Linked DNA regions of Homo sapiens. The protein of the gene in region 4 purifies or fractionates together with the protein of the main gene of each other region. This does not show direct contact. Each region holds a gene or a part of one and is shown on either strand. Other genes may lie near its edges.

The links.
Region 1: the proteins of PPP6R3 (region 4) and AP1B1 purify together in Homo sapiens (affinity purification with mass spectrometry, with the first as the bait; one large-scale study listed by BioGRID). This does not show direct contact.
Region 2: the proteins of PPP6R3 (region 4) and AURKA purify together in Homo sapiens (affinity purification with mass spectrometry; 8 studies listed by BioGRID and IntAct, with this or other methods). This does not show direct contact.
Region 3: the proteins of PPP6R3 (region 4) and LIN28A purify together in Homo sapiens (co-immunoprecipitation; one large-scale study listed by IntAct). This does not show direct contact.
Region 5: the proteins of PPP6R3 (region 4) and ENAH fractionate together in Homo sapiens (co-fractionation; one large-scale study listed by BioGRID). This does not show direct contact.
Region 6: the proteins of PPP6R3 (region 4) and TNPO3 fractionate together in Homo sapiens (co-fractionation; one large-scale study listed by BioGRID). This does not show direct contact.
Region 7: the proteins of PPP6R3 (region 4) and CDC37 fractionate together in Homo sapiens (co-fractionation; one large-scale study listed by BioGRID). This does not show direct contact.

The regions. Positions count from the first base shown.
Region 1 is NC_000022.11:29,329,017-29,333,070, reverse strand, and holds part of AP1B1 (AP-1 complex subunit beta-1), read left to right. Parts: intron 1-1,154; coding exon 1,155-1,284; intron 1,285-1,537; coding exon 1,538-1,622; intron 1,623-2,361; coding exon 2,362-2,448; intron 2,449-2,538; coding exon 2,539-2,693; intron 2,694-3,350; coding exon 3,351-3,359; intron 3,360-4,054. UniProt on the Homo sapiens protein: Subunit of clathrin-associated adaptor protein complex 1 that plays a role in protein sorting in the late-Golgi/trans-Golgi network (TGN) and/or endosomes.
Region 2 is NC_000020.11:56,388,986-56,393,642, reverse strand, and holds the start of AURKA (aurora kinase A), read left to right. Parts: upstream 1-1,427; 5' UTR 1,428-1,475; exon of another isoform or gene 1,476-1,852; intron 1,853-2,977; exon of another isoform or gene 2,978-3,087; intron 3,088-4,657. UniProt on the Homo sapiens protein: Mitotic serine/threonine kinase that contributes to the regulation of cell cycle progression.
Region 3 is NC_000001.11:26,420,671-26,424,724, reverse strand, and holds part of LIN28A (protein lin-28 homolog A), read right to left. Parts: intron 1-4,054. UniProt on the Homo sapiens protein: RNA-binding protein that inhibits processing of pre-let-7 miRNAs and regulates translation of mRNAs that control developmental timing, pluripotency and metabolism.
Region 4 is NC_000011.10:68,599,800-68,603,853, forward strand, and holds part of PPP6R3 (serine/threonine-protein phosphatase 6 regulatory subunit 3), read left to right. Parts: intron 1-541; coding exon 542-695; intron 696-2,063; coding exon 2,064-2,170; intron 2,171-3,542; coding exon 3,543-3,693; intron 3,694-4,054.
Region 5 is NC_000001.11:225,520,404-225,524,457, reverse strand, and holds part of ENAH (protein enabled homolog), read left to right. Parts: intron 1-4,054. UniProt on the Homo sapiens protein: Ena/VASP proteins are actin-associated proteins involved in a range of processes dependent on cytoskeleton remodeling and cell polarity such as axon guidance and lamellipodial and filopodial dynamics in migrating cells.
Region 6 is NC_000007.14:128,995,793-128,999,846, reverse strand, and holds part of TNPO3 (transportin-3), read left to right. Parts: intron 1-556; exon of another isoform or gene 557-624; intron 625-2,311; coding exon 2,312-2,458; intron 2,459-4,054. UniProt on the Homo sapiens protein: Importin, which transports target proteins into the nucleus. Specifically mediates the nuclear import of splicing factor serine/arginine (SR) proteins, such as RBM4, SFRS1 and SFRS2, by recognizing phosphorylated SR domains.
Region 7 is NC_000019.10:10,397,043-10,401,096, reverse strand, and holds part of CDC37 (hsp90 co-chaperone Cdc37), read left to right. Parts: intron 1-4,054. UniProt on the Homo sapiens protein: Co-chaperone that binds to numerous kinases and promotes their interaction with the Hsp90 complex, resulting in stabilization and promotion of their activity. Inhibits HSP90AA1 ATPase activity.

The DNA.
Region 1 (4,054 bases), on a different chromosome or scaffold from region 4:
CAGAAGTGCACCAGGCTCCGAGAGGTGGTTCCAATGGTTGCCTCTAGCAAACTTACTGTGTGCTGAATGCTTCCTGGGCACCCAGGCCCTGTGGCACCGGCTTTGGGAGTATTGTCTCACTTGAGCCACTTGATGGCCCAGCAAAGTCACTGCCATCACCCCTTTTTAGTAGGTAATGACACCTGGGCTCCTTGGACAGCTCACATAGCGAGCAGTAGTGGAGCTCCCAGGAAAGCCTAGTGTGCTGAGCCACCAAGCGGACCTGGGGTTCCCCAAATGGTCTCCCTCTGTGTCCCAGGCAGGCTGATGGCTTCTTGGGCAGAGCACAGGCTGGGGTCAGACAGCCCAAACTCTGATTCTCAGCAGCGCCCTCACCCTATGGGGTCTGACACAGGCCTGCTCCTCCCTGAGACGGTGTCCTCATCTAGAGGATAGGAAGAGGTGTACCTGGCTCTGTTTTTATGAGGCTAGGAGCAGGTATAATATTGAATCCGCAGCCCAGGTATACCGAGCCCTCGGTTTGTGCCCCCAGTCCCATGCCCTGTGACTTACCTTCCAAGAGCCTGCTGCTGGCGTGTCTCACACCCATGAGGATCTTCCTAATTTGTCACTGTGCTGCTTTGCAGAGAAGCAGAGCTTTCCTGAATCTCTCTGTGGCCACTGTGTGACCTGGCAAGTTCTGGCCAAGAGAGTAAAATCTAGCGTCTTGCTTGGGATGGTCAGATCCCTTCTGGGAGTTGAGGATTGGCAGCAGAGACTTGGGTGGTCCCAGAGTTTTCAAGGTAGAAGCAGCTTATACTCCAGGCCCCTGGCATTAGACAGAGCTCCTTGAGGGCAGGACAGGGCAAGGCCTGCCTACCTGGGCCCACCAGTGCCTGGCCCAGAGGAGAGGAACAGAGCTGGGCTTCAGGCCTGCAGCCAGGCTGGGGCAGAGCAGAGCAATTGGCCTGGGGCTCTTTCTTTCTGTCCAGATGGCCATCTGGGGGAGGGGACCCACAGCCCATCCTTCTGTCCAGGGTCCAGAACATGGGAAGGCTGGCACGGTGAGAGGCTCCCTGCCAACCACAGCCCCAGCTCCCGAGTCGGAGGAGCTCACCTGTCCCGCATCAGCACCTACTCCCCCTGCCATCCCTGTGGGGCTTCTCTCTCCCCAGCTTTGGCCTGGCCCCCGCCGCCCCCCTCCAGGTCCACGCGCCACTCAGCCCCAACCAGACAGTGGAGATCTCCCTGCCTCTCAGCACGGTGGGCTCGGTCATGAAGATGGAGCCTCTGAACAACCTCCAGGTGGGTTCCGGGCAGGGCAGGCACCCCAGTCCTTACTCACCTACCAGCCGGGCCCCACTGGGGTCAGTAGAAGGTCGTGTCTGCGGAGTCATGCTCTTAGCTGCAGATGTGTTGGGGAGGCCCAGGTTGGGGAACGAAGGGGTGTGTTTACCAGGGAAGGCCCTGGGAGAGAATCTGCTCAGTGACACTCTTCCTGGGGCCTCAGAGGTGGCGTCAAGCCCCAGAGACTGACTGGGGACCCCCTTGTGCCTAGGTGGCCGTGAAGAACAACATCGATGTCTTCTACTTCAGCACCTTGTACCCACTGCACATCCTCTTTGTGGAGGACGGGAAGATGGGTGAGTCATGAGGGAGCCCGCTGGGGTGCCTGAAATGGGGCTGTGGCTTGGGAACCTGGCCAAGGTGGTGCCTTTACCAAGGTCCAGATGGACTGCCTTGCCCGTAAATGGAGTCGGGGAGTTGCTGCTTCCCTGCAGGGCCTGGAGTGAGGGGTATACCCAGGACCCCCCCGGCCTTAGTGGCCAGTTCTGGTCTGGCAGGTGGGCTGTGCCACATGGAACTCACCCCACTCCCAGGCTCTCCTGCTCGCTCCTCAGCCTTGTCCCATGGGCTGCAGCGAGCCCAGGTCATGCCCCACACCTGGTAACCCCCTCCTCTGTGCCCTTTCTGGAACCCCCAAGAAGGGTGTTGATCACAGCACACAGACGGCCTGCACCCTGCCCCTGGCTGCGTGGAGCCCTTGGCCCATGTCATCTCTTGCTTGCCACAGAAGGCCTGCATGGGAGGCTGTGACTAACGAGCAGGCTGCTCACCGAGGAGGAGGAAGGCGTGTGGGGGTGGGGAGGGGAGATCCAAGGCCTGGAGGCAGGAAGCCAGGGTCATTTGGAAGCGGCACTGGGGCCTCCCTCACAGAGCGGAGGGTGTGCTTAGGGAAGCAGGAGGGCTGTGCGGCAGCTAGTGCCTGTTGTCAGCTTTCACGTGGCACAGTAAAGGCCAGACCCATTTCCTGCTGAGCTACAGAGGGCCCACAGGTTTATGAGGGGCTCGCCTCTCATCCCCACCCTGCTCACCCCGCAGACCGGCAGATGTTCCTGGCCACATGGAAGGATATTCCCAATGAGAATGAGGCCCAGTTCCAGATCAGAGACTGCCCCCTCAATGCAGGTGAGGACTCCGAGCCCCCGACCCCAGCCCCTCGCCTGTACCCAGGCCCCCGCGCTGACTGGGGCCTCTCACGGCCATGTGACCCCACAGAGGCTGCGAGCAGCAAGCTGCAGAGCAGCAACATCTTCACTGTCGCCAAGAGGAACGTGGAGGGCCAGGACATGCTCTACCAGTCCCTGAAGCTGACCAACGGCATCTGGGTGCTGGCGGAGCTGCGGATCCAGCCGGGCAACCCCAGCTGCACGGTGAGAGCCCCGGCACCCGCCCTGCAGCCTTGGAGCCTCCCCTTCGTCCCATGCCAGGGGGTGGCCCTGGTGGAGGACGCGGTCCAAGCGTCCCTTCAAGCCTGGCTTGAACTAGAATCAGTTTGGTCCCTGAGAAGGACCTTTCTAGAAAGCTTCCAAATCAACCCCGTCAGGTTACCCAGATAAGACACCAATTGGGTCTCGGAACAGTGAGTTGGACTAGAAGATTGTGTAAAATTGGGCCCTGTAAGGTGGTGCAGTTGGTTTGGCACCCCTGACTGGGAAGTGACATTGCTGGGCACAGGCCCTGGCCCTGTCCTGTGAGTGCCTGCATGTCCAGCTGGGAGGACAGTGGTTCCCAGGAGCCTGAACCTCCCAGCCTTTGAGGTAGACCTGTTAGAGAATGGCTTCCCTGGGGCACACAGTTGTCCTGGAGGCCTGCACCGCTGTTCCAGGGCCCCGGACAGCCCCAAACTCTGCTTCTCCCCCACACCCCTGAGTCTCTGGCAGGCATGGCCCTCCAGACACTGCCCCTCCTGGGTCCTGCTGGCAGTGCTGGTCGGTGGGGGGCTGTGGCGTGGCTTCGGTGGTGGTAACTTCCGTCTCCCTGTGTTTGGTTGCTGCATGTCACCTTCCCTGCTGGTTCCCGTGGTGCAGGACTTAGAGGTTAGCAGATCGCTTTCTCTTTCCCCGTCCGCCCTCCCCAGTCTTGTCTCCTGTCATGGCCCCCATGCACCCCATGTCTCCTGTCTGCACCTCATCTCTTGGCCTCACCTCACCCGGGGGGCTTCAGCCAGGTGGCCCTGATTGAGGTGCTGACACCCCACTTCCACACATTCACAGTGTGCACAGAGTCCTTCCTAGGAGACCTGGAGGGCCCGTGGGCTGCTGCTGACCTGCGGAACTCCATTGTTCCCACTTCCTAACTGCACCCTGCAGAACCAGTGCTTTAGAGTGGATGGGTGGGGGCTCCTCTCTCCTCTGCCTGTGATCTCAAGCTCAGGCCCCAGAGCGGAGGCAAAGTCTCTACCGTGCCTGCTTCCTACGCAGGAAACCAGGAATGAGCCCAGCACCCCTCCAGGCTCCCTCCCAGCCCTCCGCACCCCCTCGGGATTTTCTGTCAGGCTTCAGTCCTGAGGACCCCAGACCTTCAGGGACTCTGGGGGGCCGGGCAGCCCTCAGGGTGGGGGCCGGGCACTCCCTGGCAGCCTCCGGCTCGTGACTCACACTGCTCGCCAGCAGGGCTCTGGTGACTGGGCTGACAGCAGGTGTGTGGGCTGCAAGTATATTTGGTCCACACCCGGCTGGCTGCGACAGCCGCCCCCTCCGCTTTACCTCACATCTGTGCCAGGCGCAGCTGC
Region 2 (4,657 bases), on a different chromosome or scaffold from region 4:
TCTCTATTCATTCCTTTCAGTAGCTCAGGATGCCATGTAGGCTTTAATCATCTGACTTCAACTTTTAGTCTCGTATTTTGTGGGACTCCTGTACGTAATTAAATATCGTTTTTCTCCCATGGACAATGTTCAGTTACCCGAAAAAAATGGGAGATTCTTAAGTACCAATAAAGAATGAAAATCACAAGTGGGTAGTCTGGCAAAGAAAAGTTGATGAGAGATTCTACTGTTAACGTTGGGTTAATATGACTCGAATAATTTCCGTATGCTAGCTCAATGCTTTACATGCACATCCTGTTTACCCTGCAGTAATCTGTTAATTCGTCTTATGTGAATTTAACTCTTAGTCCTAATAAGGTACCTGGAAGGATGGAGGGAAGCCATTTTTGGTTCCCCTACACCACTGTTCTATCCGGTCTCTTCACTTCTGCTGAGCACATCCCGGGTGTACATACACACACACACACACACATATGTGTGTGTATATATATGTATATGTGTGTGTGTGTGTATATATATATATATTTTAAGTGGCCCACCCCTAACTTCTCAACTCCCACAGAACGTTCACTCGCCAGGTAAACAGAAGCCTAATTATCCCCAATTTGCAGGTGAGCACACGAGGACAAGAACCCGATCCAGGACCGGATACATCGCAGTTGGAAAGGCTAGAACACAGATGCCCCCTCACTATATGCGCCGCGACCATCTGGATGCAGAGGCGAACTAAGGACTGGGTGGGAATGGAAGCGAGGCCCTTCGAGAAGAGGAAGGGGTGCAGGCCAAGCCGGGCAACTTAGGAAACGCAAAGTAGAGGCGCATGCCACCTTGCTAACTCTCGACTCTTCCAGTCTCGCCCCAGTCGTTTCTGTGGTTTTCTCTAAATGCCCCAGCCGACCGCACCAGCTACTCTCCCCGTGTCCCAGTACCAGCTGGTCCGGTTCTCTTGGTATCCCGCTCTCTCCTGGAAAAATGGAGGCGCGAATCCTGCCCAATCTACCGCTCCGAGCGCACGTTCACTGCGCACGCTGAAAGGGCGCCAAGCCGACCGCTGCGCTATCGATCGGTCCCACTCTCTCTTGCTTTTCTCGCCATCTTACTTACTGGCACGTTCAAAGGTTAGTTCACCTCCTTGGACTTTATCTCCAATGCGTCAAGCTTGACGTCAAGGGGCTGTTGCTTCACCGATAAATGGCCGACCGCGGAGAGCACCCTGGGGCTGGGACTGCCACAGGTCTGGCTGGCCGTTGGCTCCACCACTTCCGGGTTCTTAGGGAGCAAGTGCGCCTGCGCGCGGTGTGCGCCCTTAAACGCGACTCAAGGCGTCGGGTTTGTTGTCAACCAATCACAAGGCAGCCTCGCTCGAGCGCAGGCCAATCGGCTTTCTAGCTAGAGGGTTTAACTCCTATTTAAAAAGAAGAACCTTTGAATTCTAACGGCTGAGCTCTTGGAAGACTTGGGTCCTTGGGTCGCAGGTGGGAGCCGACGGGTGGGTAGACCGTGGGGGATATCTCAGTGGCGGACGAGGACGGCGGGGACAAGGGGCGGCTGGTCGGAGTGGCGGAGCGTCAAGTCCCCTGTCGGTTCCTCCGTCCCTGAGTGTCCTTGGCGCTGCCTTGTGCCCGCCCAGCGCCTTTGCATCCGCTCCTGGGCACCGAGGCGCCCTGTAGGATACTGCTTGTTACTTATTACAGCTAGAGGTACAAGGGGTTTGTTGAGTGGTGTTGACATGCGCGGGAGGGGTGGGTGGGCTTCAGATTGGATTTTGTCCTCCGAGATCACCTGGGTAAGAAAAGCACAGAAGGTCTCTGCTGTGTTGGAGTTCACGTTCTAGTGGGTGGGGAGACAGACGGTAAGCGTACGGAGAACTTGCAGCTGGGGTGGGTGTTACAGAGGAAAAGCAGGAGTGCGGTTTAACGGGGGCCGCTTTAGATAGAATAGCCTAAGAAGGCCCTTGTCCTGGCTGGATGAGTGGGTGAATTGATGAATGAGAACCTCCTTGCAGAGGCCTTCCCGGTCCGTACTTCTCAGACCGTAGACCTTGGAGCAGTTGTACCGGGATAACTTGCAGTGCTTGTTAAACATATAGCTCCACCGAGAGCCCGGTAAATCAGAATCTCTGAGGGGTAGGACCCAGGTGTCTAGTTATTAACAAACTCTCCAGATGATTCTTAGGTTTCATTGAGAACTAGGGATGCAGACCGGTGCATACAAATCGTCTGGGGACGTTAAAATGCAGAATCTGTTTTTTTAGACCTGGGGTTAGGCCTCAGAGTCTCCATTTCTAAGAACCATCCGGCTGAGGTAGACGTAGCCACTGTCCTTAACTCTCGTAATGTCTCTTCCTCTTCCGTAACCTTCCTTGTCCCTTGAATTAAACGTTTTTCAGCAACCTACTCAGTTCGTCCTTCCCTTCATCTCTGCAGACATGCACAGGTCTGAGGGAGGAAGGAATAAACCGTATAAACCTCCTGCGCTATTAGCCTAACAGCTTTTCTATTCAAAATAGTAGGACTTCTGGTTTGAACTGAATGGATCCTGTGAAAGTCATCTGGTTCTTCAATCTGGTTGCAGATTAGAGTCACCTGAAGGGCAGTCTCCTTGGCGTTGTCTCCAGAATTCTGGATTAGAATCTTATTCCATTCTGCTTGTTATTCAATTTCCCTAGAAAGAAAGGTAGAATAAATTGGAGCAAATGCCTGTAGCTTCTGTCAGAAGAATGTTGAATAAATGTTGTTAGGCCTATGTGATCTCATTAGACTGCTACTTAGAATTGTAAGGGAAGTAAAGCATTAGAGCATGTGTGAAATTAAATATTTGATTAACACAAGTGTGCATTTCCTTGTTGCTGTTTATCAACTTTTACTTACCCACTGTTTTTTTATAAGGGCTGCAGCCTGTAGTCTGGGCCTGGCTTCATCATGGAATTATTTGCTTAATTGTAAAATGGTAATCTTAATTTTTTTTTTTGAGACAGGGTCTCACTCCATTGCCCAGGCCAGAGTGCGGGGATATTTGATAAGAAACTTCAGTGAAGGCCGGGCGCGGTGGCTCATGCCCGTAATCCCAGCATTTTCGGAGGCCGAGGTGGGTGGATCACCTGAGGTCGGGAGTTCCAGACCAGCCCTACCAACATAGAGAAACCCTGTCTCTACTAAAAATACAAAATCAGCTGGGCGTGGTGGTGCATGTCTGTAATCCCAGCTACTCTGGAGGCTGAGGCAGGAGAATTGCTTGAACCCAGGAGGTGGAGGTTGCGGGTGAGCCGAGATTGCGCCATTGCACTCCAGCCTGGGCAACAAGAGCAAACTCTATCTCAAAAAAAAAAAAAAAGAAACCTCAGTGAAATGAAAGACTGAACTACACACCTGGGGGAAAAGCGTAATAAAGGGAGCAAGAAGTGCAAATGCTTATGGCAGGGGACTTATTTGCAGAAAGAAAGCCTTGTGTGGCTGGTACACGGTTGACAAGAAGAGGAGATGAAGTCAGAGAGGTAGTTAGGGTCCATGTTCTGTGAGACTTCAATAGGCCTGTCTATGCAGGTTAGGAGTTTGCATTGTTTTGATTGAGTTGGGAGCCATGGGGGTCTTCTGAACTGAGGATCAACACATCTGATTTGTTAATGAGATTGCCGGCCTCAGTGTTAAGAATGGACCATGACAGGGTAAGGGTGGAAGTGGGGAGGCCATTGGGAGGCTGTTGGAAAAAACTCAAGGGAGAGAGAATAATGGTTTGACCAGGTGGTAGTAGTAGAGGTGGTGAGCAGTGATCTTGAAGGCAGAGCCTACAGAATATGCTGGTGGATTAAATGAAGGGTTTGCGAGAGAGAACCTCGTAAAGGGTTATTATGCCAAGGCTTTTGGCCTGAGCAACTGACAGGATGGGTTTGCCATGCACTGAGATGAGGATGTCTAGAGACTAGATTTGGGGAGGTGAGAGTGGGGAGAGATTAGGACTTCTGTTTGGGACATGTTAGAATGGAGATGCCGCTCAGATAATCAGGTGCAGATGTTGCATAGAAAGTAGAAAATGTAGATCAAGAGTTCAGGGGAGAGGTCTGGGCTGAAGAATGAATATTTGGGAGTCCTCAGCCTGTAGATGGTACTGAAAGCAAAGAGACTGGATGTACTCGGCTAGGGAGTAATTGGAGATGGAGAAGTCATTCTAGGCCTGAGCTCAGGGCACACCCATGAACAGGGAGGTGAGAAGTGGAGAAGGGAAGAGGTTCAGTTTTGGATATGTTAGGATTGAGGTGCCTGGCAGACATTTTTGGGAGATCCTGGGCAAATCCTTGGATATCCAAGTCTGACAGTCCAAGGAGAGACTAGGGCAGAAGACGCACTTTGAGTGGTCCTCATGAAGGCATTTAGAGCTGAGGCACTGGGTGATATGGATCCCTGGTGAAGGTGTAGATGGAGAAGTGGAGGGTCCAGGGACTCGTTCTTGAGTCACCCCAGACCCTTGATCTGGCAAAAATGAGACTGACCCAGCAAGGAGGGAAAGACAGGACGACTAGGTGGTAGATAAACCTGGAAGTGAAGTGAAGAAAAAAGTGTAAGATGTGATCAACCTTGTCAGATTCTGCTGAGGATGCAAGTACGGGGAAGGTGGAATTGACCCTTGGGTTTGGCAGCAGTAGGTGTCAGCCATGAGCCTG
Region 3 (4,054 bases), on a different chromosome or scaffold from region 4:
TTTGTAAATACAAGCATTTGGAAGAAATCAACAAATATAAAATTACGAAATTTAAAGTGTCACACTATAGAGGTTGCAGTGAGCCAAGATGGCGCCTTTGCACTCCAGCCTGGGCAACACAGCAAGACTTCGTCTCAAAAATAAATAAATAAAATAAAAGTAAAAATAGCTGGGCATGGTGGCTCAGCCACACACGGTGGCTTACGCCTTTAACCCCAGCACTTTGGGAGGCTGAAGCAGGTGGATCACGAGGTCCAGAGTTCGAGACCAGCCTGGCCAACATGGTGAAACCCTGTCTCTACTAAAAATACAAAAATTAGCCGGGTGTGGTGGTGGGCGCCTGTAATCCCAGCTACTTGGGCAGTTGGGGCAGGAGAGTTGCTTGAACCCCGGAGGCAGAGGTTTCAGTGAGCCATCATGCCACTGTACTCTAGCCTGGTTGACAGAGCAAGACTCCATCTCAAAGAAATAAATAAATAAAATAAAAATAAAATGTCACGCTATGAAGCACTGAAATATTCATTTTTCACATAATGCCTCACTTAGTATTTATACCATCATCAAAAGACCAAATAAGTAGAATACTGGAAAAAATACAAAATCAAGTGGTATTTTTATAATCAAAGCAATATGATATGCCTTATTTAAAAAAGAAAAAAAAAAAGGCCGGGTGCGCTGCCTCACGCCTGTAATCCCAGCACTTTGGGAGGCAAAGGCAGGGGATCACGAGGTCAGGAGATCGAGACCATCCTGGCTAACACGGTGAAACCCCGTCTCTACTAAAAATACAAAAAATTAGCCAGGCGTGGTGGCGGGTGCCTGTAGTCCCAGCTACTCCGGAGGCTGAGGCAGGAGAATGGCATGAACCTGGGAGGCAGAGCTTGCAGTGAGCTGAGATCGCGCCACTGTACTCCAGCCTGGGTGACAGAGCAAGACTCCGTCGCAAAACAAACAAACCAACAAACAAAAAAACAAACTCAAGATGCTCAATGATTTAAGAAATAATACTAATGGGCCGTGCGCAATGGCTCATGCCTGTAATCCCAGCACTTTGGGAAGCCGAGGCGGGCATATCACCTGAGGTCAGGAGTTTGAGACCAGCCTGACCAACATGGAGAAACCCTGTCTCTACTACTAAAAATACAAAATTAGCCAGGCGTGGTGGTGGGCATCTATAATCCCAGCTACTTGGGAGGCTGAGGTAGGAGAATCACTTGAACCCGGGAGGCGGAGGTTGCGGTGAGCCAAGATTGCGCCATTCTACTCTAGCCTGGGCAACAACAACAACAAAAAAAAAAAAAAAAAAAAAAAGAAAAAGAAAAAAAAGGAAATCATAATAATGGCTGCAAAACATGTTAAAAAACCAAACAAACAGAATAGGCCAGGCACAGTGGCTCATGCCTGTCTGTAATCCCAGCACTTTGGGGAGGCTGAGGTGGGCAGATCACATGAATCCAGGAGTTCAACACCAGCCTGGCCTACGTGACGAAATGCCATTTCTACAAAAAACACAAAAATTAGCTGGGTATGGTGCGCAGACCTGTAATCTCAGCTACTCGAGAGGCTGAGGCAATTGTTTGAACCCGGGAGGCAGAGGTTGCAGAGATGGCACCACTGTACTCCAGCCTGGGTGATGGAGCGAGACTCTGTCTGGCTCACCCCTGTAATCCCAGCAGAGGTGGGAGCATCACTTGAGCCCATGAGGCGGAGGTTGTAGTGAGCCAAGATTATGCCACTGCATTCCAGCCTGGGCGACAGAGTAAGACCCTCTCTCAGAAACAAACAAAAACACCAAAACCCTCAGAATACATTTAACAAGGTAAAAAGCCTATATGAAGAAAAAACTCAAATATATTAAAGGAAAAAATGCAAAAACATACCACGATCTTGGATTGGAAGATTGAGTGATTCTAAAGGCTATGGGAAAATATAAATTGCCAAGAATACCAGATATTACAATTTAAATTGGATATAATCAGCAGTGTAGCAACTACAAAGGGAAAAACAGCAAGTTTACAGTGGAGAAAACTGGCAGATAATACCCTAGTCAAGTTCTTTGAGTTTAGCTTTGCCTACAATGGGACACACATATCTTCTAATATGATGCACTAAGGACTTATGACTTTAAAAATGCACATCCTGAATCTAACCTTGAGGGAACATCAGACAAACCCAAACTGAGGGACATTCCTATAAAACAGGACTTCAAAAATGTCAAGGTCATAAAAAGACAAAGCCTGAAGAACTGAACAGTTCAATGAAATCCAAGATTCCAGATTGGATCTTGAAACAGGAAAAAAAAAAAAAAAATAGGACAATTGACAAAATTTGCATATGGTATATAGATAAATGTACCAGTGTTTAATTTCCTGATTATGATTAGTGTACTGAAACGATGTAAGATTGATATTCCCAGCCAGGCACAGTGGCTGATGCCTATAATCCCCAGCACTTTGGGAGGCCAAGATGGGCGGATTGCTTGAGCCCAGGAATTCGAGACCAGCTTGGGCAATATGGCAAAAACCCATCTCTACAAAATAATACAAAAATGAGCCAGGCACAGTGGTACACACCTGTAGTCCCAACTACTGGGGAGGCTGAGGTGGGAGGATCCCTTGAGCCCAGGAGGCAGAGGTTGCAGTGAGCAGAGATCACACAACTGTGCTCCAGGCTGGGTGACAGAGTGAGACCCTGTCTCAGAAAAAAAAAAAAAAGATAAATATTCCCATTCTTGGGAAATACGCACTGAAATATTTAGAGATAAAAGTGCTTACTGTCTCCAACTTATGGTTTCAAAAAAAAAACTATCTGTAGCAAGATAGAGAATGATAAAGCAAATGGGGCAAAATGTTAAGAGTCAATGAATCTGGGTAGAGGTTATGTGGGAGTGTTGGGTATTGTTCTTGCAGCCTTTTTAAAGTTTGAAATTATATCAAAATAATGTTACCGAAAGACAGTATAACCCAAGCAGATGGATCAGAGGATTAAAATGGAAAATCACAGAGATCTGAGAATATATGGAGAAATCAATAGGTAAGAAAAATAATTCAATAAATGCTGCTATAAAAATTAATAATCCATTGGGAAAGGAAGTCATATTCCTACAGACTTTGTATGATACATATGCAAAATACATTTCAGAGGATTTAAACACCTCATTGTTAAGAAAAATACTGAAAAGTTAAGACAGATAATCAGACTGGTAAAACTACAAAAATATACCATAAATCACTAAGAAAAAAGAATTACACAACATAATATAAGTAGATTATCAGTAGGAAGTCTTAGCACGACACATATACTCAGTATCTCATTGTTGCTTTAAAAAAATTGGAAATAACCTACTGGTGTATTTGAAGGGGAATGGTTGAATAAATATGGTACATCTATAATAATGAATACCACGCAGCCATTAAGAACAACGTAAAGTCTTTGGTTTGTTCACAGCCACATTTTGGTACCTGAAATAATGCCTAGCACATTTTTGAATGAATTAATGAAACAGGAGGCAGATTTTTAATCATTCAGCTGAGAAAGATCACCAAATAATATTGTTAAAAGAAAAAACAAAAAGCAAGATTTAGAACAATATGTATGGAATAATCCTATTAGAACACTGCACGTTTGTACCAAAATTTAAGGACACTGATATTTATAAAGCAGTTAGCAAACAGCCAGCAGCCATCAAGAAAAAAAAAAAAAGTAGTTGTTGATACAGCTAGTTCTGTAGCAAAGCCAGGGTCAGATGAACCCAGAGTTCCTGATTTAAAGCTCAGAGCTCATTCTATCATGCCACTTACTGCACCACCAACTTGACATTAGCGGAGGTGACAGCATCTCAGACCCTACCCAGAATAGACTTCATTACAGCTTCATCTATTATAGTAAAACAACAGTGTCAAATATGTCAACAAGGAGTAGTCGTCATAGAAAATGGAGAAGCAAAAGGGATCACTGTGCACTTACCTAGTCCTGGCTCAAGGGAACATGAGTAAGTAGCATTCGTATTTTATGCTGGTGGCTGGGGGGTAATATTCCAAACTGGAACTTAAAT
Region 4 (4,054 bases):
TAGTATTTCTTTTGGAACAGTTGTTAGAAATGGGAGGTTTGAGGCCAGGCGCGGTGGCTCACGCCTGTAATCCCAGCACTTTGGGAGGCCAAGGCGGGCGGTTCACGAGGTCGGGATATTGAGACCATCCTGGCTAACACAGTGAAACCTGTCTCTACTAAAAATACAAAAAATTAGCCAGGCGTGATGGCGGGTGCCAGTAATCCCAGCTACTCAGGAGGCTGAGGCAGGAGAATGGCGTGAACCCGGGAGGCGGAGCTTGCAGTGAGCGGAGATCGTGCCACTGCACTCCAGCCTGGGCGACAGAGCGAGACTCCATCTCAAAAAAATAATAATAAAAAGAAATGGGAGGTTTGAGAATGTGGGATCATTGTTAGAGTGCCCTCCAGGTGGCTGTGCCCTGTCCGCTCCTGCCCTCATTGGTGAGAGTGTCTTTCTCCCACAGCTCCAGTCTCTTTTGCTAATGTGTTTTTGATAAATACCTTGTGGTACATGAAACGACTGAAGTGTTTTCCAAATAGAATTTCTCCCCTCTTTTTAGCACCCAACTGGTCAGCTAACTTTGATGTCCCAATGGAAACAACCCACGGTGCTCCATTGGATTCTGTGGGATCTGATGTCTGGAGCACAGAGGAGCCGATGCCAACTAAAGAGACGGGCTGGGCTTCTTTTTCAGAGTTCACGTCTTCCCTGAGGTGAGCGAACATGTGCTGTCTCTACACCCTTCCACGGGGGACCTGGGAATGGTCAGGTGTTTGCTGTTAACGTGTGTTCTTCACCTTGACTGACTTCCAAGTTGAATATACTGCCCTGAAAAAGATTAAACATCAGCATACTAACACAGCTCTGTGTTGTAAGAAGAACAATCACCATCTTCCTTTCCTTTCCTCCTGGATTAATTGGAAATGGGAGTAGTTCTTGAACAAAGTAGCTTGTGAGGATGCGGTCCCAGGGAGTTAGCAGGACGCAGCAGAAGATGCATCTCCGTGAGCTTTTCTGGCTTCATAGAGCTGTCAGGACAGAATTGAGGAGAAGAGGAATGAGGTGAAGCCAAGAAATCCTGACAGGCACAGCACCTCTGTGTGGGGTGTGGCAGGCAAACAAAATGGATCTTGAATTCAGTAGATAATATGAACTTACAGTTCACTTGCAGCTAGTCCAGTGCTGTCAATTAAGGGCTCCCAATCATTGGTAACTCGGAAGATAGGAAGACAAGCTGTTTTGGGCTGACAGTTAGTGTCTTAGACAAACCAAAGAATAGGCTGAAACCCATGTTGCTTTGTAGTAACCATAGTAATAGCATTAAGTTACTACTCAGAGGTACAAGTGAGATTTGTGAAAAATGTCTCCAAAATAATGAGTTATTTCGTCTACCCCGCTTTTCAGTACAGGACATACATTTCCGCCTACTCCTTTTTTTGGTCTGTTTATAACCCGAGGATAAGAGCCTTTGGTTACTTGAGGGTGTGATTGAAGCAGCTTGCTTCTCTTTACCCTCTGTGTGCACGTCTCTGAGTTTGTGGGAATGAGGGATAAAAGAGGAAGTGTAATGATCTCCCTCACCCCTACCCCTTACTGCTCAGGCATTTGGTGTTTTTTTACTATGTTTCCACAGTTCCAACAACAAATATCATTAAGAGGGCCAGTCTCTCCCAGGCAGTGTGGCTGAAAATAAGTAAAGGTTTTTGTAAAACCAGTCAACCTGATAAATACCGTTGCCATTGCACAATGTACGTCTTTGCTGTTCAAGCTCTGGGAGCCTCCTAGTGACTATGGTGGGATGAGAAGTTGGGACATGATGAGCCTGTCTAGAATGCTTTACAAAGTCCCTGTCTTACTGCCTTGCTGGCTTAACAGAACATTTGCCTGCCCGCACTCATGTCCTTCTTCAAACAGCTACTGGCACTTAGATCCATGTGTCACTGGAGTTTGTAACCCAGTGACTCTTACACAGATGCTAATGTCTCCTAACAAAAACTTACTTGTAAAGGCTTATTGTGAATCTTGGGGTAACTGAGGACCATTCCCTGCTGCTAATATCTGAATTTTCTCTTTTTTGAAAGCACAAAAGATTCTTTAAGGAGTAATTCTCCAGTGGAAATGGAAACCAGCACTGAACCCATGGACCCTCTGACTCCCAGTGCGGCTGCCCTGGCAGTGCAGCCAGAAGGTGCGTGCAGAGAGGCCTGGGTACACGCCAGGGTCACGTGGCTGCTTTGTCAAACCAGACCTGATTCTCAGGCTCAGGGGCTAGTGGAGCCCGGGAGTGAGATGGTGGGTCTGATGTCCACAGGGCAGCTGATGAAAGAAATTGTGCCTGTCCTTCTAGAACCACAGCATGCTGACTCTGGAAAGAGTAAGGGCTCTAAGTTACCAGGCATGCAGTGTGCAGATTAGGAAACTGAGGTCTAGAGGGAAGAAGGCCTAAGCCCATAGTACCCAGGGTGAATAAAACTGGAATTAGACGTGTGCAGCCAAGCCTGTGTGTAGTTGTCCCTTGGAGTTTGCTTTGCTCAAGCATGTAGGTGTATCTGGGTTTGTTTAGAGCTATGGGGCTGGTTATTTTCACTTCGCCATTGTAAGCAGATTGAATAGTCCTGGGAATCTCTAAAGTTCCAGTGGGTTTTCCTATTACTCTACCTAGTCAAATGTGTTCCTTGCACGGCCCTGAACTGTTTTCACCTTGATGGACGGGGCTTTGGGAGGAGGGGGATGCTAGCAAAGGGAGTGTGATGGGAACCAAAAGGATGTGGAGGGCACGAATCATGAGGTGGGCTTAAGGAGTGAGTTCTTAGAAAATGAAATGAGGTTTTGGTAGAGGGTGTGAGAACCCTCCTTCCCAGGGGCAAGGGAAAGGAATAAAACCAATAACTAATGCTGGTTTCATCATCCTCCTGAACATTTGATACAGATTCCCGCATTTGACTCCTCAGTGGTTCTGTAAGTGGGTGCACTGATCCCCTTTCCTGGATGAGGAAACTCAGGTTATAGATGAGGTTCCTTGTCCAAGTAGTCTACAGCTAGGAAGTGGTGATGTCGATGTTTGAATCCAGGAAGCCTCACCTCAGCCAGGCTCATCACCTATGTTGGCTTCCCATTAGAGAACAAAGAAACGATCCACCAGCAACACCACAAGAAAGTAATTTTTAAAACAAAGCAAAGCAAATAGAGCCCAACTGAGGAAAACAAGTGAGTAGAGGGTAGAGTGTGTAACTGCCTGCTCTGCCCCACACTGGAACAGTTAGGAGCACAAGTGTCTGCTGGGAGAAGCTGGGTATGGAGGTGGACGCTGAGCTGGGAGGGATGTAGGCGACTTGCTAGTCTCTAGTAAAGAAAACCCATGAAACCCCTCTTTAGTGGGCATCTTTAAGAAGTCTCTCCCCATCAAGAATGTGGCCCAGACAACAGCAGGCAGAAGCCATCTCACTCTTTTTTTTCTTCAAGCAGTAGATGTCACGTTGGGTAGATGGGTTTGTACAGTGGTGGGGTGCCAGTTCCTTTTCGGGCTTGCTGTGTGTGACCATCAGCTGTGTTCTTTTCAGCGGCAGGCAGTGTGGCCATGGAAGCCAGCTCTGACGGAGAGGAGGATGCAGAAAGTACAGACAAGGTAACTGAGACAGTGATGAATGGCGGCATGAAGGAAACGCTCAGCCTCACTGTAGATGCCAAGACAGAGACTGCGGTCTTCAAAAGGTAACCAGGGGTGAGATCCTGCTGGTAGCTTCAGGTTATTGGGAGGATGGTGGGGCAGAAACCTCAAACATTAAAATTTTTAATTTGATTCAAATGAATGTTCAGATACTAGCTTGATGTCTTTCTGTTGTCTCCATTAAACACAATAAATCTTAATGAAGAGATGGAGAGTTTAGGCCCCTAAGTGCCTTTTCCCCCATAAATGTGTTCAGAAGACTGTATTTTACATCTAGCAGTTTGATAGAACTATGAGAATTGATAAATCTTTAATCACAATAGAAATTGGCTTGTGTAACAGGCTACAGAGCATGGCCCATGAAAACCGGTTTCAGGTCGACTGGTTTTACAAAAACCTTTACTT
Region 5 (4,054 bases), on a different chromosome or scaffold from region 4:
TTTTCTGAGAAATGTCAATAATAACAGTGTTACTAAATATTACCAACTCAGAACATTTTTCCTAGACTGTTCCTACTTCATTTTGTTAAAATTGAAATCATTCTTATTTACCTAGTAACACTATTCATTATAGGTAAAGCTGGGTGAAATGTATTTTGAACTGATGTTACTTAACATTTTACTTGCTTCAAGAAATGTCTTTGAGTCAACATAAACTAAATAATGAATATATATTTAAAAAGCTATTAATCTCAATGTGGGCTGATGCTTTGTGCATCTATTTACATTTGGGGATAGCTGTTTTGGAGAGAAATAGGTATTTGGGTGGTGGAGGAACTGTGTCTGATATTTTTTAAATGCTTAAAAAATAATATTGGTGATTTGCACTATAATTGTTTCTGAAAAAAATTTATATTCTCAGAAACTTTCAAATTATTGTAGAATATATATGCCTAGCTTAAAAGAAAAATTAAAGTAGTCCGTCAGGATTTTTCATGGTTCAGAATTAAGGCACTCTTTCTTTGAAAAAAGTCCTCAGACGATTCTATTAATGACTGAAGAAAACAGTTGGAGAGAGAACTCTAGGAAGAGGAGCCATGTGCATTTCCAGTATGTGAATTGGCAGCGATAATTCTGAGGAAAAGCAAAGTTTATAAATTTGGAAACTCCTCCTAGAAAGCTACACAAATGTCTTGCTTTAGAGGTCAAAACATGAGAGTCAAATTTATAAACCATCCAATTTAGGTGGGAATTATTCATGCCACACAAGATTCGGAAGCCAGAGATTTTCTGCTTGAATCACTATTTTGGGAAATCCGTTTAGATGGGCATCTTTTCAGCAAGCAAGCTAAAAATTAGCTTAAAGTGTTCAACACTTTCTTTTCTTACCTTCAGAACAAGAAAATAGTAAGAATCTCCTGCAGCTATATGAATTGCCTGCTTGAATCATCTGTCTGTGAACTTAGAAATATTCTCCAGCATTGTGTCCTTTTCCTATATCAGTAGACACTCCTTATCTTTTATAGCCTGAAAACCCTGGAATATGATGACATGTGGAACAAACTTCTTAAGTCAATACAACCTAGCTGTAAATGCTGTTACCAATAATTCTTTCAGATTCACCTCACCCATGCCTGGCCTTCTGCTTGTGACTTAAGCTTACTTTTTGTGTGTTAAAAGCATTGTATTGCTTAGAGAAACAGCCATTAACTTGGTGGTTAAAAAAAAACCCAACTACTAAGAACTTGAATGAGAAATGAAATGTAGTCATAGAATACTATTTGGTTCAGCTGTGAGCAGTATTTACATTATCATGTTAATAATGTAAGCTGTGAATATTGATTTTCCATATTGGGAGAAGCATGAGTGTAGTGAGGGAGTTGTAGAAGGCATCTTCCTGTTAGAAAGTAGATAGCAAAAGCTAAAATGTAAGAAACAGCTGCAAGAGTAGGAAACGGGTGGGAGGGTTGAGGCAGTGAACTACTGATTTTTGTTATAAACTTTAAAAACTATATATTTATGTTGTTTTGGTAAAATAGAAGAAGTAACAAATGCTCAAAGATCTAAAAACTTAGATCTTTTCATCATAGATTTCTTGGGACAGCTACTGTGCTCTTAAATGTTTCTCTTTAGCTTCTGTATTTAAATTTGTTCTAATTAGAATAATATGGGTGTATCTTTTGCCCTTTGGGCCCAACAGATTGCTTAGAGCATTATATGTAAAATGGCCCATATTTTTTGATGTAGGTTGAATTATCTGAAATTTAATACAGGCTCCAGCTGAGTTTATTAACTGCAGGTTACTGGAGAAACAACAACAACCAACCCTGACTTTCCTCTGTTTATTATTAAAAACATTCTTTTGAATACATCTAATTTCTTCCCCTCATCCCTGCAGATAAAGTTATTGTTATCCCTCAAAAACTTTGGCAGCTAGTGATTTATCAAATAGCATAATGAAGTCCGTACTAGATCCTGAAAATCTGATTTTATTAGTAGTCAGTATCTCAAACAACTACTCATAAATAAATAACTACTCATAAATAAAGTCAGTTTCTTGTGTTTTTCTCTTGCAGTCATTGTTAAGTGTGATGGTATGTCCAGGAGAGGGTGTGTGTTTTATGAGAGCAGTGGGGTTGATGTATTTGTCAAATGGGCCTTTTCTTTTGTTGTATAGCCAGCTTAGGAAACATGAAGGAGAGAGATTTTTGGAAAGATCTTACTGGTGTGTTGGTACCGCTGGAAGGAACAAAGGGATAGCATGCATGTGCTGTCATTTAGCTTTGTCTCTAACTAGACCCACCCAGTTTATTAGCCAGTCCAGAAAGTCCCAATTTGAAATTTCCAAATAATAACTATTGTTGGGCCGGGCGCGGTGGCTCACACCTGTAATCCCAGCACTTTGGGAGGCCAAGGCGGGTGGATCATGAGGTCAGGAGATCGAGACCATCCTGGCTAACACTGTGAAACCCCGTCTCTACTAAAAATACAAAAAATTAGCCGGGCATGGTGGCGGGCACCTGTAGTCCCAGCTACTCGGGAGGCTGAGGCAAGAGAATGGTGTGAACCTGGGAGGTGGAGCTTGCAGTGAGCCAAGATTGCATGGCTGTACTCCAGCCTGGGCGACAGAGCAAGACTCTGTCTCGGGGAAGAAAAAACAAAACAAAACAAAAAAACTATCGTTATAGCCCACATTGAACGTTCTTATGTTTCAAGTACTTCTTAAAGAGCTTTTAGGTATTACTTCATTTAATCTTCCCCACAGTGCTATGAAATACGTATGTGTAAGATAAAGATACTTTTTTTTTTTTTTTTTTGGAGACAGGGTCTTACTCTGTCACCCAGGCTGGGGTACAGGGGCATAGTCTCAGCTCACAGCCACCTCCATTCCCCGGGTTCAAGTGATCCTCCTGCCTCAGCCTCCCAAGTAGCTGGGATTACAGGCGCACACCACCACGCCCAGCTAATTTTTGTAATTTTAGTAGAGACAGGGTTCCACCATGTTGGCCAAGCTAGTCTCAAACTCCTGACCTCGGCCTCCCAAAGTGCTGGGATTACAGGCATGAGCCACCGTGCCTGGCAAAGATAACTTTTTTTTTAGGGAAGGTTAATTGACACAACTTTTCCTAAAGACAATTTGGAACCATGTATCAAAAATCTTAAATTCATACCTTTTCACCTAGCAAAATTTATGTCCTTATTGATCCTATAGAAACAGAAAAAGATTCAAAGATGAAGACAAATGTTATTGCAGTATTGCCAATAGTGTTAGGATAACTTAATATCCTACTGTAGGAGACTGCTTAGACTGTGGACAGCAAAATAATCGAATATTATTATGCACTCATGGAAAATAAAGATGCTGAACTAAGTGCCTTAGGATAACTCTGTGTGTGTGTGCGCGCGCGTGCGTGTGTCCATCCAGAGTTGTACACACAGGCAGGTTCTCATCCCAGATATCCTCAGTTTTACTAACTTATGTCTCCCTCCCTCCCTCCCTCCCTCCCTCCCTCCCTCCCTCCCTCCCTCCCTCCCTTCCTCCCTTCCTTCCCTTCTTTTTCTTCCTTCCCCGCTTCCTCCTTTCTTTTCTTTCATTGTTTTTGGAGACAAGGTGTCATTCTGTTGCCTGGGCTGATGTGTGATGATGCAATCTTATCTTACTGTAGCCTCAGACTCCTAGGCCCAAGCAATCCTTCTCCCTCAGCCTCCCAAGTAGCTGGGAATACAGGTGCATGGCACCATGCCTGGCTGATTTTAAAATTTTTTGTAGAGATGGGTCTTGCTTTGTTGTGCAGGCCCATCTTGAACTCTTGGGTTCAGACAATCCTCCCACTCAGCCTCCCAAAGTGCTAGGATTACAGCTGAGCCACTGCTCCCAGACCAACTTTCACAATATATTAAGTGAGAGAAAGGAAAGCAGATTTCACAGTAGCGGGAAATGGTTACATTTTATTTTGTTTTTAAAGTTTATATGTGTATTTTTACACAAGGGGAAGTCTAGAGGTATATAGGGGTGCGTGTGTGCGCGTATGTGTATATATAGATGTGTGTCTTT
Region 6 (4,054 bases), on a different chromosome or scaffold from region 4:
GAGGTCAGGAGTTTGAGACCAGCCTGGCCAACATGGTGAAACCCTGTCTCCACTAAAAATATAAAAATTAGTCAGGCGTGGTGGCTCACACCTGTAATATCCCAGCTACTTGGGAGGCTGAGGCAGGAGAATTGCTTGAACCTGGGAGGCAGAGGTTGTAGTGAGCTGAGATCGGGCCACTGCACTCCAGCCTGGGAGACGAGCGAAACTCCGTCTCAAAAAAAAAAAAAAAAGTGAGAAAGAAGTGCTCCCAAGTTGGGCATTGTTTTAAATAGCTCTGTTTTGGATCCTTGATGGGAAAAGGATGGTAGGGATCCTCTTACTGTGCCTTAGGCACAGTGGTCCTGTGACTCTCGGCCTGTTTTCTGTTATCACATACAAGACAACGTTTATTTGTTTTACATAATGTTACGAGGATACCTAGATTTGAATGGAACCCAAAACATTTCTGGGAGAATGTAACACCACGCAGTTATCACTCCTTTAAACAGTACCATATGGAAAAGAGGCTACGAGTAAAATCCCAGGCTTTTTCTCCCTTTCTCTCACACTCAAGGAAACAGGTGAATAAAAGTGACATGAAGCTGAATCAGTTATGTTCAGGAGTTACAGATGGTTTGCCAAGTAAGAAATGTTCTAATCTCAAACATTCAATGAAATGATTTCAGAATTTTCAGAAAAGTACTTTAAAAAAGACTTCTGGCCGGGCGCAGTGGCTCACGCCTGTCAGCACCTTGGGAGGCCGAGGTGGGCAGATCATAAGGTCAGGAGTTCAAGACCAGCCTGACCAACATGATGAAACCCCATCTTTACTAAAAATACAAAAATTAGCTGGGGTGATGGTGCGCACCTGTAATCGCAGCTACTCAGGAGGCTGAGGCAGGAGAATCACTTGAACCCAGGAGGTGGAAGTTGCAGTGAGCCAAGATCACACCACTGTACTCCAGCCTGGGTGACAGAGCAAGACTCCATCTCAAAAAAAATAAATAAATAAAAATAAAAAGACTTCTGGCTGGGCACAGTGGTTTATACCTCTAATGAGGTTCATACCTCTTAACACTTTTGGAGGCTGAGGTGGGAGGATTGCTTGAGCCCATGAGTTCGAGACCAGCCTGGGCAACAAAGCAAGACCTTGTCTCTACAGAAAATTTAAAAAATTAGCTGGGTGTGGTGGTGCACACCTTTCATCCCAGCTACTCAGGAGGCTGAATGGGAGGATCACTTGAGCCCAGGAGTTTGAGGCTGCAGTGAGCCATGATTACACCACTGTACTCCAGCCTAGATGGCAGAGCAAGACCCTGTCGCTACAGAAAATTTTAAAAATTAGCCAGACATGGTGGCAAGCGCCTGTAGTCCTCCTAGCTACTCAGGAGGCTGTGTGGAAGGATTGCTTGAGCCCAGAAGTTCAAGGCTGCAGTGAGCCATGATTGTGCCACTGTGCTCCAGCCTAGGCGACCCTGTCTCTAAAGAAAATATATATATCTTTTGAGACAGGGTCTCACTCTGTTGCCTAGGCTGGAATGCTGTGGTGCAATCACAGCTCACTGTAGCCTCAGCCTCCTGGGCTCAGGTGATCCTCCAACCTCAGCCTCCTGAGTAGCTGGGAATACAGGCATGTGCCACCTACATGCCTGGCTAATTTTTGTATTTTTTTAGAGATGGTGTTTCGCGCCTGGCTGAAATTTGTTTTAAATAAAATAAAACTATGTGGTGGCTCATGCCTGTAGTCCCAGCACTTTGGGAGACCTAGGTGGGAGGATTACTTGAGGGCAGGAGTTCAAAACCATCCTGAGCAAGATGGCAAGGCCCTGTTTCTACTAAAAAAAAAAAAAAAAAAAAAAATTAGCTGAGCTTGGTGGTGTGTACCTGTAGTCCCAGCTACTTGGGAGGCTGAGGCAGGAGGATCACTTGAGCTCAGGAGTTTGAGGCAGCAGTGAACTGTGTTCATTCCACTGCACTCTAGCTGGGGCAACAGAATGAAACTCCGTCTCTAAAAAATAAATAAAAATAAAGACTTCCATGTCTGTTATTGTTTTCTCTAAATTCAAAATTCAGTATACTTTTGGAGGCATTACCTCAGGACTAAATGGAATGTAAAGCCAGTCATTCTAAATGGAGATTTGGGCCTAACGTGGGAAGACAATTTGGGGAGATAATAGTAAATCTGCTAGAGAAAAGGTGACTTCTTAACTGGCTCCACTCATATTATTTAAAAATATATCTTTCTTCCTATATGGTCGTGGTGATAATAAAATGTCTTCTTATTCTATTCCTTTCCCATTCAAATAAATCATCTCTTTTAACCTAACAGGTAGTAGAAATTTCATTTAACTTTTGGTACCGACTGGGGGAACATTTGTACAAAACTAACGATGAAGTTATTCATGGCATCTTCAAAGCTTACATTCAGAGGCTGCTTCACGCCTTGGCTCGACACTGCCAGCTGGAACCAGACCATGTAAGTTCCCTTCTCTACCTCTTCAAATCTTAATTTCTTCCTCTTGTCAGTGCCAACTTGAAAAGGAACTGAGAAGATAGATAATAAACCTGGCTGGGCACCCTGGCTCATGCCTGTAGTCCAGCACTTTGGGAGGCCAAGGCAGATGAATCGTTAGAGCCCAGGAATTCAAGACCAGCCTGGGCAACATAGGGAATCCCCTGTCTCTACAAAAAGAAATAAAAGAAAATTAGCTGGGCCTGGTGGCACACGCCTGTAGTCCTAGCTACTCAGGAAGCTGAGTTGGGAGGATTGGCAGACTCTACAGCTTATACTGAAGAAGTCAGTACCAGTATAATCTGTTAGGTCTATTTAGGGAAAAAAAAAAGCAAAACACTCCAGCTAAACCAGTAATTCTTTTCCTGGGAGTATATCTTAAATCTGCAGAAGAAAAAAACAGCTATTTTATATACAAAATGTTATCTGTAAAAGTAAAAATTATAAACCCATGTACAGCAGTATAACAAGAGTTATATGAATTATATAAGAAGAGTTATGATTTAGCAACTTGATGCAGCAATTAAAAGGTAGTGAAATGATGATATGGTAAGAGAAAAATCAGAATGTAAAATTATGTACTCTTTTTTTTTTTTTTTTTTTTTTTTTTGAGACGGAGTCTCGCTCTGTCACCCAGGCTGGAGTGCAGTGGCGTGATCTCTGCTCACTGCAAACTCTGCCTCCTGGGTTCACGCCATTCTCCTGTCTCAGCCTCCCGAGTAGCTGGGATTACAGGCACCCGCCACCATGCCAGGCTAATTATTTGTATATTTAGTAGAGATGGGGTTTCACCGTGTTAGCCAGGATGGTCTCGATCTCCTGACCTCATGATCCACCCACCTCAGCCTCCCAAAGTGCTGAGATTACAGGTGTGAGCCACCGCCCCTGGCCAAAATTTTGTACCTTATTAAATAGTAGAAAATAAGTGGTTAGATGAAAACTAATACAAAAGTGAAATATTTGTGTGTATGATTTTGCCCCATGAAGATACACATTTTTTAAATCTTATTTATACTGATTTTGTAGTTTAAAAGAATATAGAAATCTATTTGCTTAGAAAAAAATACTAGAAAATTATTAGTTTATTAGAAAACTCTTCAAACATCATGCTTAGTCTCTTCAAATTTTGCCACATCGATTTCATCCTGTTGGTTGGTTGAATCCGTCCTTTAATCTAGGACCTGCAGTAAGTTTTATTGCTTACAATTAAATCCCACGTGCTGTTCTCTTAATTTTAATGTTAGTATTGTGTTTGAGTCATGGTATTTTGTATCTCCACACAACCTTAGTCATGATTTAGTCTGGTGGTTTTCAAACTGCACCCACCCCCGCTATTTTTTAAAGTGAAGAATCCAACTGGGCGTGGTGGCTCATGCCTGTAATCCCAGCACTTTGGGAGGCCGAGGCGGGTGGATCACTTGAGGTCAGGAATTTGAGACCGGCCTGGCCAACGTGGCAAAACCCCGTCTCTACTAAAAATACAAAAATTAGCTGGGCATGGTGGCAGGTTCCTGTAATCCCAGCTACTCAGGAGGCTGAGGCAGGAGAATCACTTGAACC
Region 7 (4,054 bases), on a different chromosome or scaffold from region 4:
GAGATTGCTGTCGTTCAGAGCACAGGCCTGACTAGGTTCAAATCTCAGCTCTGTCTGTATCACTCACGTGCTGCGTGACTGCCAGGGAGCTGTTTGATCGCTCTGTGCCTCAGTTTCCCTACCTGAGAATCTGAATGATGTCCACCCCATAAGGTTGTTGTAAGGCTTACCTTATTCATTTAATATTTGTAATCCTTTTGGGGCAGTGGCTATTATCATCATCATCATTTAAATAATTTCTGTTCATGGTTAAAAAAAAAAAAATCTGTAGCCACATGTGGTGGCACATGCCTATAGTCCTAGCTACTCAGGAGACTGAGGCAGAAGGATCATTTGAGCCCAGAAGTTCAAGTCCAGCCTGAGCAACATAGCAAGACCTTGTCTCTCTCTTTTTTTTTTCGAGACAGGGCCTTGCTTTGTCACCCTGAGATGGCAGTGGCGCCATCTCAGCTCACTGCAACTTCCACCTTCCGGGCTCAAGTGATCCTCCTACTTCTGCCTCCTGAGTAGCTGGGACCACAGGTACACACCACCATGCCTGGTTGATTTTTGTACTTTTTGGTAGAGACAGGGTTTCACCATGTTGCCCAGGCTGGTCTCAAACTGCTGAGCTCAGGCAATCCACCTGCCTCAGCCTCACAAAGTGCTGGGATTGTAGGTGTGAGCCACCAAGCCTGGCCTAAGACCTTGTCTCTTAAAAAAAAAAATTTCAAAGTTTCCAGAAGCGGACAAATGAATCCCTTTTCTCAGCCCCAGCTCGCCGGCTCTCCTGCCCAGAGACAGCTGCTGTTAGTGGTTTCTTCTAATGAGTTGTATGACATTGAGATTCTGTGAGCCTCAGTTTCCCTAACTGTAAGGCAGGAGGGTAGTGACATCTGTGGGCCCTGCTTGCTGGGGTGGCTTCTCCCCTGCCCAGCCTGCTACAGCCCCTCCCCGATAGGAGGTGTAAAGCCCAGGCTGGGCAGGCTGCCGCCCCCGCCAACTCCAAGAGGCCTTTTTTAGCTGCGGCCTCCCTGGCAGTTGTTCAGAGGACACAGGGGAGACTGGTGGCAGCCCAGCAGCGGATTGCAGGGTGGTGGGCAGGCTCCAGGGTGACACAGGCCCATCGTGGAGAAAGGGAGTTGGAGAGGCCACAGCTGCTTTTTTTTTTTTTTTTTTTTTTTTTAAGACGGAGTCTCACTCTGTTGCCCAGACAGGAGTGCAGTGGTGCCATCTCGGCTCACTGTAACCTCCACCTCCCAGGTTCAAGCAATTCTCCTGCCTCAGCCTCCCGAGTAGCTGGGACTACAGGTGCGCGCCACCATGCCCGGCTAATTTTTGTATTTTTTAAGTAGAGATGGGGTTTCACCATGTTGGCCAGGCTGGTCCCGAACTCCTGACCTCATGATCTGCCCGCCTGGCCTCCCAAAGTGTTGGGATTACAGGCATGAGCCACCACACCCAGCAACTTTTTTTTTTTAAGAGATGGAATCTCACTATGTTGCCTAGGCTGGTCTCAAATTCCTGAGCTCAAGTGATCCTCCCACCTCGGCCTCCCAAAGTGCTAGGATTATAGGCATGGGTCACTGTGCCCAGCCTGCAGCTGCTGTTTATCTCATGAGGTATAGCTTTTTTTTTTTTTTTTTTTTTTTTTCAGACAGGGTCATGCTCTGTCGCCCAGGCTGGAGTGCAGTGGGGCGATCTCAGCTCACTACAACTTCTGCCTCGGGTTCAAGCGATTCTGCCTCAGCCTCTGGAGTAGCTGGGATTGCAGGCGCCTGCCACCACGCCTGGCTAATTTTTGTGTTCTTAGGAGAGACGGGGTTTCACCATGTTGGCCAGGCTGGTTTCAAACTCCTGACCTCAGGTGATCCACCCGCTTCGGCCTCCCAAAGTGTTGGGATTACAGGAGTGAGCCACCACGCTCGACCACGTAGGCCTTCTTGACCCCTTATACATATAGGGGAATCCGAGGCTCAGGCTGGCTGTGTCAGTCCCCTGGGGTATTAGAGTAGGGGCCAGCTCTGCCTGGCCCTGCCTTAGAACCTGGGGACACAGCCTCAGATAAGGCACAGGAATGAGTCAGCAGACCATTCAGGTGGCAGTGACAAGGACGGAGATGGTAACAGTGGGACACACCTACTGAGGGCTGTTTTGGAAGCATTTTCCATAGAGTTAGTCATTCAGTTCTCACGGCGATCCTGTGAGACTCCATTTCACAGAGGGGAAGACCAAGGCTGGGAAAGGTTTCAGTGACATGGCCAAAGTTCCATCTCCCGTCAGTGGCACAGCCGGGTGCTGTGACCATGTAGTAACAACCACTCCCAGTTATTGAGCGTGTACTCTGGGCCAGAAATTAAACTAAGCATTTGAAGGACATTTCCTTTTTGAGGCCCCAGAGTGGTCCCCAGAGAGAGAGAGAGATTGTTCTCTTGCACAGATGGTAATGACCCTGGCCAGTACAGGAAGGGTGCGTGCTGAGGGCCCACATGGCTCGGGACATTTTACTCTAATCATCTCCTTAGTTTCTTCCAATATGAGCTTGTGCAGTCAGCATTGTTGACTGTTTGACAGATGAGGAAACTGAGGTTACAGGAGGTTAGGGGATGGCCCGGGATACCCAGCCGGTACATGGTGGCTGTGGGCTAGGACCCAGGGGCCGTTGCCCCAAGGCTGTCCTCCAGCACCCTCACCACATCGTCAGATGGTCACAGGAGGTCCTTTAGGGATCAGTGGTGCCTCAGGCAGGGAGCATTTGGGGAAGGCTCTGTTGAAGCTGAGTTTTGGGTGCAAAAGCAGGTAAGGGAACCGCACATGCAGAGGCCAAGAGGCAAGACAGAGCCCGTACTTTCGGGGAACGATGAGGGCCAGTATCTGCCTGGGACCCAGGACCAGGATGCCAGGATCAGAAGTCCCATCTGAATTCAGACCCCCCAAGATGTAGTGGGGAGGACTCTGGTCACGTGGTCAAATGCATGGGCTTCACAGGCCTCCCTGGTGGCAGCTGTGCCTGGATTGGAGAGGGTCAGCAATTGAAGGTGGTGGCACGTTTCAGGGTTTCAGGGTTTGATTAGTGGCTCTGGATAGAGCAGCCTCCACTGAGGTTCAGGAGAGGTGATGGTGGAGCCACGCAGGGGTCTCAGGAGAGGCCTGTACAATCCGATGGGGCCCAGATGGAGGTCTGAGGGAGACAGGGAGTGAGGCGGGGACCAGGAGCCTGAGGAGATGAGGCACTGTTATAAGGAGAAAGAGGAGTGCCTGGGGAGTGACATCTGGGGCTGGGGTGAGCGGGAAGCAGGTAGACACCAAGCTGGGGCTCAGGAGGGCATGCTGGGCTGGAGACAGAGCTAAGAGGGCCTTGGCAGTGATCCTGGGGCAAGGTTATGGGTGGAACAAAGAAACATCTAGAAGGGGCCCTGGTGCAGTGGCTCATGCCTGTAATCCCAGCACTTTGGGAGGCCAAGGTGGGTGGATCACTTGAGGTCAGGAGTTCAAGACCAGCCAACATGGAGAAACCCCGTCTCTATTAAAAATACAAAATTACCCAGGCGTGGTGGCGCGTGCCTGTAATCCCAGCTACTAAGGAGGCTGAGGCAGGAAAATTGCTTGAACACGGGAGGCAGAGGTTGCAGTGAGCCAAGATCACGCCACTGCACTCCAGCCTGGGCGACTCCGTCTCAAAAAAAAAAAAAAAAAAAAAAAGCCAGGCTTGGTGGTTTGTGTGCACCTGTAGTCCCAGCTACTTGGGGTTGAGGCAGGTTGAGCCTGGGAGATCAAGGCTGCAGTGAGCCATTATCACACCACTGCACTCTAGTCTGCATGACAACAAGACCTTGTTCAAACAAAACTGAACAAAATAAAAACAAAAAAAAAAACAAGCATTTGCTGAGCCCGTGCTTTGCACCAGGCCACGTTCCTGGTTCTGGGAACAAAATGGCGAACACGTTCCCATATTTAGAGAGCAGGGCTTCATTCATTGGAGGGGGGCAGTACCCAAAACGTGATAAATAATTGTCATATGATGTTAGTGGTTGCTGATGTTGAGGAGGCAGGGAATTCCAGACAGGGGCAGCGG